Regions from separate parts of the Homo sapiens genome. Here region 2 is linked to region 1. The links come from fine-mapping of genetic effects on plasma protein levels. Region 1 holds a variant in brackets. A gene starts in the other region. All regions are shown on their reverse strands. Region 1 overlaps PLAUR (plasminogen activator, urokinase receptor). Region 2 holds the start of PLAU (plasminogen activator, urokinase).

The links. PIP is the posterior inclusion probability: the model's chance that the variant is causal. Protein levels are from antibody-based Olink assays in UK Biobank. Linkage for the fine-mapping came from a reference panel and not from the study's own genotypes, which makes the PIPs less certain.
Region 2: it holds the start of PLAU, and the variant in region 1 is fine-mapped to the plasma level of the PLAU protein (UK Biobank, PIP above 0.99).

Annotation. Positions count from the first base shown.
Region 1 is chr19:43,647,815-43,650,714 of GRCh38, reverse strand. PLAUR (plasminogen activator, urokinase receptor) reads left to right here. Exons shown (of 7, transcript NM_002659.4): 7 at 1,572-2,136. The coding sequence ends at 1,825. Among named protein-coding and RNA genes, the nearest start is that of CADM4, 9.4 kb to the right of the region's middle. The variant A/G (reference allele first, on the strand shown) is at 1,619.
Region 2 is chr10:73,909,504-73,912,403 of GRCh38, reverse strand. PLAU (plasminogen activator, urokinase) reads right to left here and starts at 1,272. Exons shown (of 11, transcript NM_002658.6): 1 at 1,186-1,272; 2 at 792-879; 3 at 336-363; 4 at 82-189. The coding sequence starts at 848. It overlaps C10orf55 (chromosome 10 putative open reading frame 55), which reads left to right. Exons shown (of 5, transcript NR_160938.1): 4 at 120-204; 5 at 309-2,435. RefSeq lists a silencer at 726-1,325 and enhancers at 2,291-2,900, 2,597-2,900.

The sequences.
Region 1 (2,900 bases):
TCTTATAACAATAAAAACTCATTACACATTAAGATAAATAACATTTTAATGAAAAATAAGTATAGTTTCCAAAGAAAAAATGTAATGATAGCCAGGCATGGTGGCTCATGCCTATAATCCCAATACTTTGGGAGGCCAAGGTGGGCGGGTCACTTAAGCCTAGGGATTTGAGACCAGCCTGGGCAACATAGCAAGATCCTGTCTCTACAGAAAATACAAAAGTTAGCTGGGCATGGTGGTGCATGCCTGTAGTCCCAGCTGCTTGGGAGGCTGAGGTGGGAGGGTCACTTGAGCCTGGGAGGTGGAGGTTGCAGTGAACGGAGATTGCACCACTGCACTGCGGCCTGGGCAACAGAGCGAGACCCTGTCTTAAAAAAACAAACAAAGAAACAACAAAAAAAAAACCAGCCAGGCGCGGTGGCTCACGCCTGTAATACCAGCACTTTGGGAGGCCAAGGCGGGCAGATCACAAGGTCAGGAGTTCGAGACCAGCCTGGCCAATATGGTGAAACCCCGTCTCTACTAGAAATACAAAAATTAGCTGGGCATGGTGGTCGCGCCTGTAGTCCCAGCTACTTGGGAGGCTGAGGCAGAAGAATTGCTTGAACCCGGGAGGCAGAGGTTGCAGTGAGCCGAGATCGTGCCACTGCACTCCAGCCTGGGTGACAGAGTGAGACTCCATCTCAAAAAAAAAAACAAAAAAAAAGCGTAATGAGAAAACTGGCATTATTTTGCTGTGTTGCACATCTCTTTAATGTCCAGCTTAATAGAAGACAGCTGGGTCCTCATGGAAGCTTCTGCTTTCAGTCTCTTGCAATATCACATGTCCTGGAGTTTTTGGAAAAGCCCATTGTACACTTATGAGAGTGAAAAAGCCATGTGAAATCACAGATCTCCTGAAAGGGTCTCTGGGGTCCCTGAGCCACACTTTAAGAACCGCTGCTCGCTTCCTTTCTTTCTTTTTTTTTCTTTCCTTTTCTTTCTCTGTCTCTCTTTCCCTTTCTTTCTTTCTTTCTTCCTTCCTTCCTCCCTTCCTTCCTTCTTTCCCTTCTCCTTCCTTCCTTCCTCCCTCTCTCTCTCTTTCTTTCTTTTCTTTCCCTTCTTCCCTTCCTCCCTTCCTTCTTCCCTCCCTCCCTCCCTCCCTTCCTTCCTTTCTTTCTTTTTATTTGTTTTTTGAAACAGGGTCTCACTCTGTTACCCAGGCTGGAGTGCAGTGGCGTGATCATAACTCACCACAGCCTCCATCTCCTGAGCTCAAGTGATCCTCTCATCTCAGCCTCCCAAGTAGCTGGGACTACAGCTGTTTTTTTCTTTTTTATGTTTGTAGAAACAGAGTTTTGCTATGTTGTCCAGGCTGGTCTGGAACTCCTGGGCTCAAGCTATCCTCTCTCCTTGGCTTCCCAAGGTGTTGAGATTACAGGCATGAGCCACCACACCTGGCCCTGAGAACTGCTGCTTTCTCTAGGTGGTAGTGAAGGTGGCACCCACTGCAAGGTGGCAGGTCACCTACTGGAGAATTCCAGTCCTGGGCCCAGGAGCTGGAAGTCTCACTCCGTCTTCTCTTTCCTCAGAACCGAAAAACCAAAGCTATATGGTAAGAGGCTGTGCAACCGCCTCA[A/G]TGTGCCAACATGCCCACCTGGGTGACGCCTTCAGCATGAACCACATTGATGTCTCCTGCTGTACTAAAAGTGGCTGTAACCACCCAGACCTGGATGTCCAGTACCGCAGTGGGGCTGCTCCTCAGCCTGGCCCTGCCCATCTCAGCCTCACCATCACCCTGCTAATGACTGCCAGACTGTGGGGAGGCACTCTCCTCTGGACCTAAACCTGAAATCCCCCTCTCTGCCCTGGCTGGATCCGGGGGACCCCTTTGCCCTTCCCTCGGCTCCCAGCCCTACAGACTTGCTGTGTGACCTCAGGCCAGTGTGCCGACCTCTCTGGGCCTCAGTTTTCCCAGCTATGAAAACAGCTATCTCACAAAGTTGTGTGAAGCAGAAGAGAAAAGCTGGAGGAAGGCCGTGGGCCAATGGGAGAGCTCTTGTTATTATTAATATTGTTGCCGCTGTTGTGTTGTTGTTATTAATTAATATTCATATTATTTATTTTATACTTACATAAAGATTTTGTACCAGTGGACAAGGCCAGGTATGCCCTTCTTTGTAGTGTCTATCTTTGGGAGGATAAATGGTGGGGGACACCTTTTCACAGGCTCCTGGAATCAGGGGTCATGTTTGAGGCCCCTGCCTAGGTTGGAAGTCCTCCTGGGGGCTGCCTCCACATCTATTTCTGGACTCCAAATGCTGACAGAGCAGGAGCACTGCCATCTTGAACAAACACCACCATTCTTAGTTCCTCTTGATTAAAAATCGGCTAAATCCGGACGTGGTGGCGGGTGCCTGTAGTCCCAGCTATTCGGGAGGCTGAGGCAGGAGAATGGCGTCAATCCGGGAGGTGGAGCTTGCAGTGAGCCGAGATTGCACCACTGCACTCCAGCCTGGGTGACAGAGCAAGACTCTGTCTCAAAAAAAAATCAGCTAAATCCAGCCCCAAAACATCAGCCTAATGGCTACCATCAGCATAACCAGAAACATTCCAACCCTAAGATAAACCCCTCTCTGACCAGAAACATGCCAACCCCCAGATAGCCTCCCTTCCGACCAGAGACTTTCCAACCCCACAATAAACTTTTCCTCACATGAAAACATTCCGAACCTAGATAAGCACCCCCTTCCAAAACTCTTAAATATCCTTAGTCTGTAAAAAAAAAAAAAAAAAAGGGCTCTCTAACCTAACTCAGCCAAAAGCCCCCCTCAGGTTGGTTTTCTCTAAAATAAACCTGTCCTTCACCGTCAAGCCACATTTCATGTTTCTTTCCTTTTCCTTTTTCTTTTCTTTTCTTT
Region 2 (2,900 bases), not on the chromosome of region 1:
TAACTCCTGCCTGCTCTTGCCTCCCACCCATCCCTCCCTGTCCCCAAATTTCTCTCCCAGTTGCAGTGGAGATCCCCATACCTATTTCACAGTGCTGCCCTCCGAATTTCTTTGGGCAGTTGCACCAGTGAATGTTGGAGAAGTACTTGTTGGACACACATGTTCCTCCATTTAGACAGTCACAGTTCGCTGGAGAGAACAAAGGTGGGGTAAGCGAGGGGGAGTGGAAGTGGTAAGGGGTGGCGCAGCCCTGCAGCAGAGGGCAGGGAGGGGATGTCCCCTGAAGCCTTCCCAACTTGTCTGTGCAGCCAACTGTTGTAGGGGTGGATACTCACATGGAACTTGATGAAGTTCATTGCTGCCCTGGAAGAGATTCGGGAGGAGGCTTCATCAAAGGTCCCATGCTCCAGGGACTCCAGGGTGAGGGTAAACTGGCCCCAATCCCAAAACCCACTCTTCCCTCTCCCTCTCGCCTCACCCTGTTCGTATCTAGTTCTCAAATGGAAGACCATGGGTTTCCAGCCAGGAGAAATGGATTGACCCAAGCAAGCTTCATCTACCAGATGCCCGCAGGCTGGGGCAGTCCCGGCGGCCTCTTCCTCCCTTGCCAGCCAGTGCCAACCCCCGTGGTTCTCAAGCCTCCGCTGCCACCCTGTCCCATTTCCTGGGGAGAGTCTGGCCCTGCTGTGGATGGAATCCGGAGGACCCCAGCTCCCTGAGCAGCCCCTCCTCTCCCCTGGTGCTGATCAGAGGTCCTTGGGCAGCATCAGTCAAAGCAAGAGCGCACTCACTTTGGAGTCGCTCACGACCAGGACGCAGAGAAGCAGGCGCGCCAGCAGGGCTCTCATGGTGGCGAGGTCGGGGCGCTAGACGGCGGCTCTGCAAAGGAAGGAGAAGTCAGGGCAAGAGGCGGAGGAACGGGAAGGCAGGCCAGGCGGGCGACTGCAGCGCAGGGGAGATGCCCGCGGTGACCAGGCTCCCCAGCTGTCTCTCTCCTCTCTGGGCTCCGGACTCCGGGCAGCCTGGATCGGCACCCGCGGGGGACGCCCGGGACGGGGCGCCTTGACTCCGTGCAGCCGCCGGGGAGCCCAGGGAGCCCGGGCAGCCCAGGGCGGGGGAGGCAGACGCTCGGGAGCTGGGGCCGCCGCGCATCCGGCCCGGGGATCTCAGGACCGCGGCACTCACCGGTGGCTGCGGCAGGAGGGCGCGAGCCGGCGCTGCGGGGACAGGTGGACCCTGGCCCGGGCTCCGGGGCTGCGGTCTCCGCACTGTGCTGCGACCCGCGGCGCCTGCTCTATATCAGGGCCCGCCCCGGCGCCGCCCCTCCCTCTCCCGCCCGGCTCCCTCCCCTGTCTTGCAGCGCTCAGCGACCCGGACCCCGCGTGCTTCCGCAACGCTCACAAAGATTTGGGGGAAGCGCGATCTCCAGCGGAGGGGACCCAACAGCGTCTGGACTGAGGAATCGAGAGGCTTGTAAATTCTCCGTGCTTCCTCCCATGCACCTGGCCGGGGGCCTGCCCCAGTGCAAGGAGTCCCCGAATTGCAGAGAGGAGAGAAGGCGCACAGGAGACTCTCTACCTCGCCCAGCTCTGAAGCCTCCTGGGGTCCTCTAATCAGTTCTTCTGCAACTTCTCCCCGCTGGGCCCCAACTTGCCTAAGACTGCCTCAGACCCCCTTGCCCGCAGCTGATGGAGCTGTGAAGTCTTCATCAACGCGACAAATGTACGAGACATACTCTCCCAGAAGCACAGACAGAAAAACCCCTGCCTGTAGGGGCTCCCTCTGTGCGTCTGTTCAGTGGCAGTCCCCAGATATCACCAACACAACCAGTGGATGGAACAAAGCCGGGCTTATTGCTTTCGGCAGTAAGGGGGTTTGTTTGATGGTGCTATCAGAGGGGGAAAGGCAAGGCCAGATTACTGAAAATTTGCAGCTTGGTTTAAAGTCCGTTTTTGACAGGGCTTGATAAGGATTGGGTTAGGTGTCGTGATATGATGTTACAGGATTGTGGGAACAAAGTCCTAGGGCATAAACTGTTGGTGCTTCCTATTGAAGTGTTAACGGGTCTTTTGGGAAGTTTCCATAATGAGCAATTCATTTATTTGTGCAGGCAAGAATAAAAGTAAAGACAATGGAAACATGTAGACAGTTCTAACTGTGGAGGTTCTGGAGGGTGTGGAAGTTCTGTTCTCACCTCTGAGTAGAGGAATTGGGAGACTGGAGGACAAAATAAGAGGAAGATTTATTTTTCACTGTTTGTCCTTTTACACTCTTAACATTTTAAAAAGCACATCTCTGTATAGCCCATTCCAAAAAGATAATTATGCATTTTTTAATGCATGTGTATTTAGTGTTTTACTTCATCATAGAGCCTTGTTTATTCTATTCAGATAGAAACAATTGTTTATCAAATAAAATTGTCCTCCAGAAAAACAGACCATGTGTAAATGACTGCATCCACCCTTCCTGCCTGAGGATAAGCAGACATTTGTGTATACACACACACACACACACGCATCTCTGGGCACACTTGGAGGAACATAGCAGGGATTCTGTGATTCTGTCACCCCCATCTCTTTCCCCTAGTGTCAGGAACCAGGGCTTGGGGTCATTTTGAACCCAGTAGGACTCGCTCTCTTAGTGGGAAGGAGGAGGCTGAGTCCCAGCAATCCACTAGCGGCTTTGGGCCCTTTCCCAGCCTAGGCCTGCAGCATTTTCCTGCCTTGCAAATCTGGACCTTGGGTCTGGGTCCACCTGAGAGTGACAGAAGGAAGGCAGGGAGAGTGCCAGGAAGGTAGGAAGGAGGAAGGCTCCTTTGCTCTGCCCCAGCCGAGGGCTCAGGGTGCCAGCTGCCTGCTGGGGAAAGTACAAGTTAGCCTTTCAGCTTTTGGGAGGCAGGT